Linked DNA regions of Homo sapiens. The protein of the gene in region 1 purifies or fractionates together with the protein of each later gene. This does not show direct contact. Each region holds a gene or a part of one and is shown in the gene's direction. Other genes may lie near its edges. The genes, in order: IFT140, ACSL3 and NTPCR.

Region 1 (3,651 bases):
GCTGAGACGGCTCCCTTTCCCGTGCTTCCTGCACGAGTGGGCAGCGTCCTCCCGGCTCCTCAGAGCCATGCCAGGGCCCTGAGCCAGGCCCTCCCTTTGGACAAAGCCAGGGGTCCTCACTCTTGGCCCAGCCTGTTTGCAGGTCAGGTGACATGCACTCTAAGGGTGGCACAGGGGCGGGGTGGGGGCCGTCCCGGGTTGGAGCGGGGCTCGGGTGGAGAATCCATGGTCTTGGGCTGCCCGCAGGACCCTGTGGCGGTGGTGGGCGCAGTACCTGGAGAGCCAGGGCGAGATGGACGCCGCGCTGCACTACTACGAGCTGGCCCGGGACCACTTCTCCCTGGTCCGCATCCACTGCTTCCAGGGCAATGTCCAGAAGGTAAGGTCCCCGCAGGGGAGCCGGCCAGGCGGACACGAGGCAGACACAAGGCCACCGTGTCTCGTCTTTGGGTTCTTTGTCTTTCTAGGCTGCGCAAATAGCCAACGAGACAGGAAACCTGGCGGCCTCCTACCACCTCGCCCGCCAGTACGAGAGCCAGGAGGAGGTCGGGCAGGCGGTGCACTTCTACACCCGGGCACAGGCCTTCAAGAATGCCATCCGCCTGTGCAAGGTACCACGGGCCCGGGGTGGGGAGCCGGCGCTTCTCGAGGTCCCCTGAGGAGAGCTTCAAGTGGAAAAGTGGACAGAGAGAATCGTGTCAGTGACACGTGGTCCGGCCAGTGTCTGCCACTCACTGCTCACCCCGTCTGCCTCACCCGCCCACCCCTCTGCCCACCCCTGGCCGCTTCCATCTGACATTGTTTGCAAAGCACTGAATTGTCCCCAGATGTTTCCCAGGCTCCAGGGCTCCTGAGTGGGTGGTGAGGCTGCTCACGGCCTATGGCCTTGCAGACGGCAGACCCTTCCTAGATAGCTGTTGGGCGTTCTGCACCACACAAATGTCCCAACCTGGGCTCTCGCTTCCAGAAGCATCTCCCGTGTCAGGTATTTCTTGCAGTGCTCTGTGAAATAGAACCCAGAGCATCGGAAAATCCTTGTAGACAAACCCAGTAAGTCATCAGCTCCTTAAAACCCATCACCGCAGAGATCGCTGAGCAGTGTGTCAAAGTGAAGGGGCGGGTTCGCACCCGGCCACATTCCAGAATCTCAGCGGACCTGGGGAAGCCAGTGGGAGCCGCTTCAGGGCCCTGCCTCCCTCCCTGCAGGAGAACGGCCTGGACGACCAGCTCATGAACTTGGCCCTGCTGAGCTCCCCCGAGGACATGATCGAGGCGGCCCGATACTACGAGGAGAAGGGCGTGCAGATGGACAGGGCGGTCATGCTGTACCACAAGGTGAGGGCTGGCCACCGGTGGGGACCTGGGGGAGGGGCAGCAAGCCAGGGGGCCCTTGCCTGTGCGAGGCCTCCGTGCTCGGGCCCCCAGGCCTCGGGCAGCTGCTCAGAGCCCACCGTATCCGCAGGCTGGCCACTTCTCCAAGGCCCTGGAGCTGGCCTTTGCCACCCAGCAGTTTGTGGCCCTACAGCTCATAGCAGAGGACCTGGATGAGACGTCAGACCCTGCGCTCCTGGCCCGCTGCTCCGACTTCTTCATCGAGCACAGTCAGTACGAGAGGGCGGTAGAGCTGCTGCTGGCTGCCAGGAAGGTACGGGGCCAGCGGGGCCTGGGCTCGGCTCCACGCAGGCACCACGGCTCAGGTCTCCTGTCCCCAGAGGCTGTGGGAATGGCTGCTTGCTTGGTTATGAGTTCTCCAGGAAGGCTGCGGTGGGTGCCCCCTGCCCTAGGTTTCACATACGGCACACCCAGGAGGTCCGCAAGTGTAGACTCGCCATCCTTCACGCTGGCATCTGATCATACACAGGGAATGGTGCACTCACCTATGGTGGGGGGTAAAAACACACAGAACACAAAATTTACCATCTTAGCCTTTTTTTTTTTTTTTTTGAGACAGGGTCTCGCTCTGTTGCCCAGGCTGGACTGTGGTGGTGCCATCTTGGTTCACTGCAGCCTCAACTTCCCAGGCTCAAGCAATCCTCCTTCCTCCTGAGTAGCCGGGAATACAGGAGTGTGCCACCATCCCCAGCTAATTTTTTAAATTTTTTTTCATAGACTCAGGGTCTTGCTGTGTTGCCCAGGCTGGTCTTGAACTCCTGGGCTCAAGCAATCCTCCTGCCTCAGCCTCCCAAAGCACTGGGACTGTAGATGTGAGCCCTGTGACTGGCCAGGAACAGTTTATTCAAATGGAAATATGGGTGGTTCCCAAATATAAAATGCTTAGCTTTATTCATGATAGAAATACATATCAAAATTCACGGAGATGCCATTTTTTACTGGGCTACTAAGGGTGGAAAGGCTGGAGTGCAGTGGCGCAATCTCGGCTCACTGCAAGCTCCACTTCCTGGGTTCAGGCGATTCTCCTGCTTCAGCCTCCCAAGTAGCAGGGACTACAGGTGCCTGCCACCACACCCAGCTAATTTTTGTATTTTAGTAGAGATGGGGTTCCACCACGTTGGCCAGGATGGTCTCGATCTCTTGACCTCGTGATCTGCCTGCCTCGGCCCCCCAAATTGCTGGGATTACAGGCGTGAGCCACCATGCTTGGCCGACATATTCTCTTTTTGTTTTTTGAAATGGAGTTTCACTCTTGTTGCCCAGGCTATAGTGCAATGGGGCGATCTCAGCTCACCGCAACCTCCACCTCCCGGGTTCAAGTGATTCTCCTGCCTCAGATTCCCCAGTAGCTGGGATTACAGGCATGCACCACCACGCCCGGCTAATTTTGTATTTTTATTTTTATTTTTATTTTGAGACAGAGTCTCTCTCTGTCACCCAGACTGCAGTCCAGTGGCACAATCTTGGCTTACTGCAACCTCAGCCTCCCGGGTTCAAGCAATTCCCCTGCCTCAGCCTCCCGAGTAGCTGGGACTACAGGCGCCCACCACCACACCTGTGTTAATTTTCTGTGTTTAGTAGAGACGAGGTTTCACCATGTTGGCCAGGATGGTCTCGATCTCCTGATCTCATGATCCACCCTCCTCAGCCTCCCAAAGTGCTTGAGATTACAGGCATGAGCCATGGCATCCAGCCTAATTTTGTATTTTTAGTAGAGACGGGGTTTCTCCATGTTGGTCAGGCTGGTCTCGAACTCCTGACCTCAGGTGATTTACCTACCTCGGCCTCCCAAAGTGCTGGGATTACAGGTGTGAGCCACCATGCTCAGCCATATTCTTTTTTTTTTTTTTTTTAAATATAAATGTGTTATTACTTCATATATATTTGTGGGTTATTACTGTTTTTTTTTCTTGTGGAGATGGGGGTCTGACTGTGTTGCCCAGGCTGGTCTCAAACTCCTAGGCCCAAGTGATCCTCTCACCTTGGCCTCCCAAAGTGCTGGAATTACAGGCATGAGCCAACATGCCCGGCCTAAGACATATTCTCAAGTGAAGAATGTAAAATTTTTCTTAAAATGAGGGCTGGGTGTGGTGGCTCACGCCTGTAATCCCAGCACTTTGGGAGGCCGAGGTGGGTGGATCACCTGAGGTCAGGAGTTTGAGCCCAGCCTGACCAACAGGGAGAAACCCTGTCTCTACTAAAAAAAATTACAAAATTAGCCGGGCATGGTGGCGGGCGCCTGTAATCCCAGCTACTTGG
Region 2 (3,651 bases), on another chromosome or scaffold:
ATAAGATGACTGTTTAGAAACTAGTAGTTTCAAATTTTCATGTGTTGTATTTAACTCAACTATTAACTCAATTATTATTTTATTAGGTGGATACTTTAATACTGATAAGCCACACCCCAGGGGTGAAATTCTTATTGGGGGCCAAAGTGTGACAATGGGGTACTACAAAAATGAAGCAAAAACAAAAGCTGATTTCTTTGAAGATGAAAATGGACAAAGGTGGCTCTGTACTGGGGATATTGGAGAGTTTGAACCCGATGGATGCTTAAAGATTATTGGTAAGTCATCTAATATTTTTTTGAAAATGAATGTTTCTGAAATAGTTTACACAAGAAGCACAATATATTTAGAGGAGGCGCTGAATAATATAAATCTTTATGTAATCTTAGTTTGGGTTGTTGCATCACTCCTGGAATATAAAATATTACGGACTGTGGAATTTATGAGGCCTGACATGTTATGAGTTCTCAAAGATGGTTCAGCAGCAGTGGTATTTTAAATTACTCTTAGATAACCTTCAGTCATTGTTTCCTGCCTGTGTTTCTGACATCTAGAGATTAGTGGATGGAGCTCTCACAGTCTGAACTGCACCCTTGCCTTGCCCTGCCCAGGAGAATAGAGGAAAGCCAGGCAGCTCAAGTACTATGACTCATATGGGTTGAAAAATACCTTATTCTGCTTCTCCTTTTAGGTTCTTTTTTTTTAAAAGTTAATGGCATTTCAGTTAGCCGTGTGTGGTGTCTTTGTCGGGCACCTGTAATCCCAGCTACTTGGGAGGCCGAGGCAGGAGAATGGCATGAACCCGGGAGGCAGAGCTTGCAGCAAGCGGAGATCGCGACACTGCACTCCAACCTGGGCAACAGAGCAAGACTCTGTCTAAAAAAAAAAAAAAAGTTAATGGCATTTCTATCCCTGTCTTGCTAACTAGAAACCTGGGAGGAGACTCAAGACTGTTCTCTTCAGTCAGCTTCCCATGCCTATTTTATATCCCACTAGTTTATTTTATGAGCTATGTCTCAAAATCATACTCTTCTCTCTTTGTCTCTCTTACTTGATCATTGGTCAGGCCTGTACCTTCTGCCACCCTCTCCCAATAATTTCTCTGTTGCCATGTTTACCCCCTTAAACACACCCTCTCACTGCCACCATGTAATTACTAAACATGGATCTTACTGGCCACAACCATTTAATGTCTCCTAGAAGCTCAGTTCAGGGTGCCCCTGTTAACATTGTTCCCCTCTTCACCTTCATCGTCAGTTGTTTTCCTCCTCCTCCTTGATGCAGCTGAAATTAGAGCTGATGTTCTTCTGGCTTTTGCCAGTGTTGTTGCACCTGACCTCTCACTTTTCCCTTAGGACTCGGCTCAAGCAGCTGAGCATAGTGACTCAGGCCTGTAATCCCAGCTACTCGGGAGGCTGAGGTGGGAGTATCACAGGAGCCCAGGAGGCCGTGATTGTGCCACTGCACTCCAGTATGAGCAACAGAGTGAGACCCTGTCTCAAAATCTCAAAACCAACCAACCATCCAACCCTCAGCTCAGGCCTCACTTGCAAGAATTTTTTCCAAATCCCCAGGTTGGAGAGTCTTAACACTTAGCGCTACCATTGTAGTACCAATGTATTGAAGTAATACGTTTTTGCATTATGCATGTCTCCAGATAGGTTGTGAACTTGCAGATGGCATTGAATATCTTCTTCACCTGCCTGGTACTAATGGATACCAGAAATAAACCTGTTCAGAAGAACATACTTGAAGCCCTGCTAATGGAGTCCATTAAGTAGAAGTTAATTGTTTTTCTTTCTTTCTTTTTTTGAGATGTAGTCTTGCTCTGTCGCCCAGGCTGGAGTGCAGTGGCACCATCTCAGCTCACTGCAACCTCTGTCTCCTGGGTTCACGCAATTCTCCTGCCTCAGCCTCCTGAGTAGCTGGGATTACAGGTGTGCACCACCACGCCCAGCTAGTTTTCGTATTTTTAGTAGAGTCGGGGTTTCACCATGTTGGCCAGGCTGGTCTCGAACTCCTGACCTCAAGTGATGTGCCCGCCTCGGCCTCCCGAAGTGCTGGGATTACAGACATGAGCCACTGGACCTGGCCTGTTTTTCTTTTAAAAGCATGGGCCGGGCGCGGTGGCTCACGCCTGTAATCCCAGCACTTTGGGAGGCCGAGGCGGGTGGATCATGAGGTCAGGAGATCGAGACCATCCTGGCTAACAAGGTGAAACCCCGTCTCTACTAAAAATACAAAAAATTAGCCGGGCGCGGTGGCGGGCGCCTGTAGTCCCAGCTACTCGGGAGGCTGAGGCAGGAGAATGGCGTGAACCCGGGAAGCGGAGCTTGCAGTGAGCCGAGATTGCGCCACTGCAGTCCGCAGTCCAGCCTGGGCGACAGAGCGAGACTCCGTCTCAAAAAAAAAAAAAAAAAAAAAAAAGCATGTATTTAGCAGTACAAAAATTAGGGCCTAATTTTAATATGTGCTTTTAATTTCAGCATAACCATTAATGCTTAATTTTGCAAAGTTTTAAATAATTTGATAGCAAATTACTTAGAGAATGGCCAGTATTTATATATGTATTAAATGTTACTAATATTATTACTCATTGTTTTCCCCTCTCCACCTTTCTTTGTTTTGCAGATCGTAAAAAGGACCTTGTAAAACTACAGGCAGGGGAATATGTTTCTCTTGGGAAAGTAGAGGCAGCTTTGAAGAATCTTCCACTAGTAGATAACATTTGTGCATATGCAAACAGGTAAGAACGTGGAATTCATACTACTTTTACTTAAAATATTTGATGTCCATAGACATTTCCTACCTGTATGGACCTTCTTTGTAAAAATGTTCCGAGAACTCTTCCTATCTGTTACTTGTGGGAATGGCCTCCTTCTCATTGCAGCCATTAGCTGACTCTTTTCCTTGTAAGGCTTCCCCTGATCTTTCTCTCTGTCCCTGTTTTCTGCTTTACGTCTCACTGCAGTGTCCCATGGAGGGAGGTGAAGAAAATAAAACCTTCCTTCCTGCTGCCTTGGTACCCCTACCTACCTGTCCCTCAGCAGGGGAAGCTTCACAGAACTACTCCAGAGGAATGGGGAGTAAAGAAGTGGCAGTGAGGAGTGTGCTGCTTACTTACTCCTGCTCTACACTTGAGCCTGCTCGGCACTCCAGGCAGGTCTTGGGGCTCCTATGTAAGCTGTGTTAAGCTGCAGCCTAAACACACAGCCTCCCCACCTCATGATGATGAAGAGGCAGCTGGGGACCTGTCTACGACAGTTGACATGAATTATTATGGGAAAATAAAATCTGTTATCAGGAAAACTAATTTAGAAACAGATGTTGGGGGTACAGCCCAAGTTAGAAATGAATTGCATTTATTTATAAATGATTCTGGTCTTTAGCCATTTAGTATTTTCTTTAGTGATGATACAGATCTGGATTTATTCATGTGATAGTAACCAGAAGCATCTTCTTCCTGATGTTACTATTTTATGGCCTTCAAAAAAGTATTTGCCTTCGTTGGGCATAGTCAGAGTTCCTCTATCAATACAAATTCTGATGATAACAAAAGAAAAAAAAGAATATATTCACATCATTTTGATTCGTTGCTGAATTTTTAAGATAGTTTTTAATTTATGTTAAATTTTAGTTTTTTAAAACACA
Region 3 (3,651 bases), on another chromosome or scaffold:
TTTGTCTAAATTCTTGCCTTTCTTTCCCTGTTGTCCCTCTGTTTTCCTCTCAGTCAGATATTGCTTCTCCCCAACCCCTACCCTTAGTTTCTTTGAGTCAGTGGTAGCTGTGCTCTTGGCTGAGCTCTGCTCACACACCTCACTCCCCACCCCCAGTTTAAAAGCTCCCTGGCCCTGCAAGTGCCAAGTGAACAAGTCAGGCAGGCAGGGCCACTCCTATCAGGGGGAGTGGAGAGTGAGTACCCGTGAGCACCTTCCTCATGATCATTTTAATCACTGAGTGAAATGTCACCTTGGCCCACTGGCAGTATCCACATGTTGCCACCAAAGAATCCTGGAGTATCCACATGTTGCCACCAAGAATCCTGGAGTGTGGTGGTAAACAGCCATTAGGGTTAGACCAGCCAGACTTGGAAAAATGTATGCGCTTCTTTATTGATTTATTTATTCCTTCATTTGGTCAATAGTGATTGAGCACCTACTGTATGCTAGGTGTCATTCTAAGTCTTGGGATACTGTGGTGAACGAGACTGACCAAGGCGCTGCTTTCATGGAGCTTACATTCTAATGGAGGAGCTGAATACCAAAAATGTGAACAGATAAGTTAAGCAATTTCAGATACTGATAAAGGCAAAAATAAAGAAACCAGGCAATGTGGTAGTTGGGGGCAGGAGTAGCAAGGGCGATCAGGGAAGGTCTCTTCAAGGAGGTGACATTTGAGAGCCCTGAAAAGTCTGTGGGGTTCTTCAGAGTTTCATGTCGTCTTCTCTTATTTTACATTTTTGGTTGTGATTATAGAGTTTCCATGGAAATCAAGGCAATGAATAGTGAAAGATCATGAAAGAAAATTAGTTTTGAGGTCAGATAGCTTCTAGGCTGGAAGACCGGGAAATTGCTAGTGTTAGACTCCAGGGATTGGCTAGTTCCACAAACTAATCTAATCTAACAGTCCTAAGGAAGGATTGAAAGGAGCTGACTGTGATGCCCAGAAACAGACTTTGTGTCTTAGGATCATACCACATTTCTTCCGCTCTCTGAGACTCAAAATTATTCTCCAGGCAAGATAATCATTGCTTCTAATGATCTGTAAATAAAACAATTAGCTTTGAGTTAATTAAGTAAGAGATAGGGGCTGACATACCCTGTTTTTTTTTGTTGTTGTTGCTTTGGGGTTTGTGTGGTCCTTCTGTTTCAGTTTTATTTTATTTTTTATTTAACTTATTTTTTTGAGGGGGAGGGACAGAGTCTTGCTCTGTTGCCCAGAGTAATCTGTGCTGGGATTACAGGTGTGAGCCACTGTGCCTGGCCTTTTCCAGTTTTATAAATCAAGAACCTCATTTTCTTTTTTTCTGAGACAAGGTTAGTCTCTGTGGCCCATGCTGGAGTGCAGTGGCATGCTCTTGGCTCACTGCATCCTCTGCCTCCTAGGCTGAAGCCATCCTCCACCTCAGCCTCCCAAAAAGCTGGGACTACAGGCATGTGCCACCACACCTGACTCATTTGTGCATTTTTTGTAGAGATGGGGTTTCACCATGTTGCCCGGGGTTGATCTCGAATTGAAGAGCTGAAACAATCTGCCTGCCTCAGCCTCTCAAAGTGTTGGAATTATAGGCATGAGCCACTGTGCCTGGCCAAGAACCTCATTTTCTTTATCTGCAAACTTAGGTGTTGGATTAGATATATTTTTGGGTTCTTTCCATTGCTCACATGCAATAAAGTATCCGAATCCATTTTTGAGAGTGCCCTTCACATTCAGTACTTAGTCCATCGTTTAGGCACCTGTGAGGCATGATCTCTGCCCTCAAGAAAAACAGACCATGGGGCAATCAAAATCTAGGGGCAGGGAAGGGAGAGATCTATGTGAGCAGTGGTAGTGGAGAGGTGTCCAAAGGAAGGGGTTCTTGAGTTGGCTCTTGAAGGAGGAAATGGGAAAAAGAAGGGAGAACATTCCAGGTAAGAAAATGAGCTATGAAAAGGGGTCAGAGTCAGCGTCCCCTTGCTACCAGCTGAACATGCGTAGTGTGAAGATGAGACTGAGCCCGTGATATGGGGGAAATGTACCACACGAATTAGTAATATTATCTAGACTTATTCTTCACAATGTTGGGTGAACAGAGTACTTTCCAATGAATATGCATAGTGTGAAGATGAGACTGAGCTCATGATATGGGGGAAATATACCACACAAATTAGTAATATTATCTTGACTTATTCTTCATAACGTTGGGTGAACAGAGTACTTTCCAAAAACACCCGAGAACTCTTCCAGTTTTAGACAAGATAGAGTAGACACACTTGTGTTTATTTTTCCTGCTAAGGATGTTATTTATAATACAAGCATAAGAAGACCTGAAAAGTGAAGAGAAAAAGACAGACTGGCTAGGAACCTAAGGACCTAAGGAACAACACAACAGACACAACTGAAAATCATTTGTCATGCCAAGAATCAGGAATACCTAAACCTGAGTGAGGAAAGGCCATCAGCAGATCTCAACAGCAAGGTGACTCAGATAGTGGAATTATAGGGCAAGGATTTGAAAACAGCTATCATAAAAATGCTTCATAAAATTACAGATACACATGAAACAAATGAAAAATAGTCTCAGCAAGAACTGGAAAGTTTCAGCAAAAACCTAGAAGATAGAAGAATCAAATGAAAATTTTAGAACTATACAATAGCCAATAAAAAAGTCACTGAATGGGCTCATCAGCAGAATAGAGATGACAGGAGAAAGAATCAGTGAACTTGAAGGTAGAACAATAGAAATTACCTGACAAAGAGCAGACTTAAAAGAAAAAGTAATGAACAAAATGAACAGAGTTTCTGGGACCTGTGGGACTATAACAAAAGATGTGACATTCACATCATTGTAGTAACAGGAGATGAGTGTGGGGTTGAAAAAGTGTTTGAAGAAGTAATGGCTGCATTTTTGTCATATTTGGCAAAAGACATAAACCTACATTTTCAGTGAACCCCAAGAGGATAAACTCAAATTCATGCCAAGACATACCATAGTCAAACTTATGAAAATTAAAGTCTTGAAAGCAGTGAAAGGAAAGCAGCACCTTACCTATAGGGTAAAAACAATATGAGTGACAGCAGATTTCTCAGGAGAAACCATGAAGGCCAGAAGGAGGTGGTACATTTTCCAAGTGTTGAAACAACTGTCGACTCATAATTCTATAAGACATTCACAGATGAAGGAAAACTAAGAGAATTTGTCATAATAGAACTGCTCTAAAAGAATGGCCAAAGGAAGTTCTCTTATCAGAAAGGAAATGGTAAAAGGAGACCTGGAACATCAGGAAGGAAGAAAGAACAATGGGAAGAGTAAAACTCTGAGTGAGTGTAGTGGGCTTTTCTTCCTCTGTTGACTTTTGAAGAATTATGTTTGACAGTTGAGGCAAAACGATAACATTCTCTGATGTGTTAAAAAAAATAGCTGAAAAAAGAAAAGAAAGAACAGTACCTGAGAAGGAAAATAAAATCTCACTGATACAATCTTTGGCACCTCCTATTACCTAGTAAAGCATCAGTAGAAGAAATTGGTGATGGAGTATTTTTATTCATCTATTTGGTAAATATTGAGCACGCACTGTATGTCAGGTACTGTTCTATCCACTGGAGTTTTAGCAGTGAACAATAGAGAG

The links.
Region 2: the proteins of IFT140 (region 1) and ACSL3 purify together in Homo sapiens (affinity purification with mass spectrometry; one large-scale study listed by BioGRID and IntAct). This does not show direct contact.
Region 3: the proteins of IFT140 (region 1) and NTPCR purify together in Homo sapiens (affinity purification with mass spectrometry; one large-scale study listed by BioGRID and IntAct). This does not show direct contact.

Annotation. Positions count from the first base shown.
Region 1 is NC_000016.10:1,521,512-1,525,162, reverse strand, and holds part of IFT140 (intraflagellar transport protein 140 homolog), read left to right. Parts: intron 1-246; coding exon 247-379; intron 380-467; coding exon 468-611; intron 612-1,206; coding exon 1,207-1,335; intron 1,336-1,462; coding exon 1,463-1,645; intron 1,646-3,651. UniProt on the Homo sapiens protein: Component of the IFT complex A (IFT-A), a complex required for retrograde ciliary transport and entry into cilia of G protein-coupled receptors (GPCRs).
Region 2 is NC_000002.12:222,930,535-222,934,185, forward strand, and holds part of ACSL3 (fatty acid CoA ligase Acsl3), read left to right. Parts: intron 1-86; coding exon 87-278; intron 279-2,631; coding exon 2,632-2,746; intron 2,747-3,651. UniProt on the Homo sapiens protein: Acyl-CoA synthetases (ACSL) activates long-chain fatty acids for both synthesis of cellular lipids, and degradation via beta-oxidation.
Region 3 is NC_000001.11:232,971,094-232,974,744, forward strand, and holds part of NTPCR (cancer-related nucleoside-triphosphatase), read left to right. Parts: intron 1-3,651. UniProt on the Homo sapiens protein: Has nucleotide phosphatase activity towards ATP, GTP, CTP, TTP and UTP. Hydrolyzes nucleoside diphosphates with lower efficiency.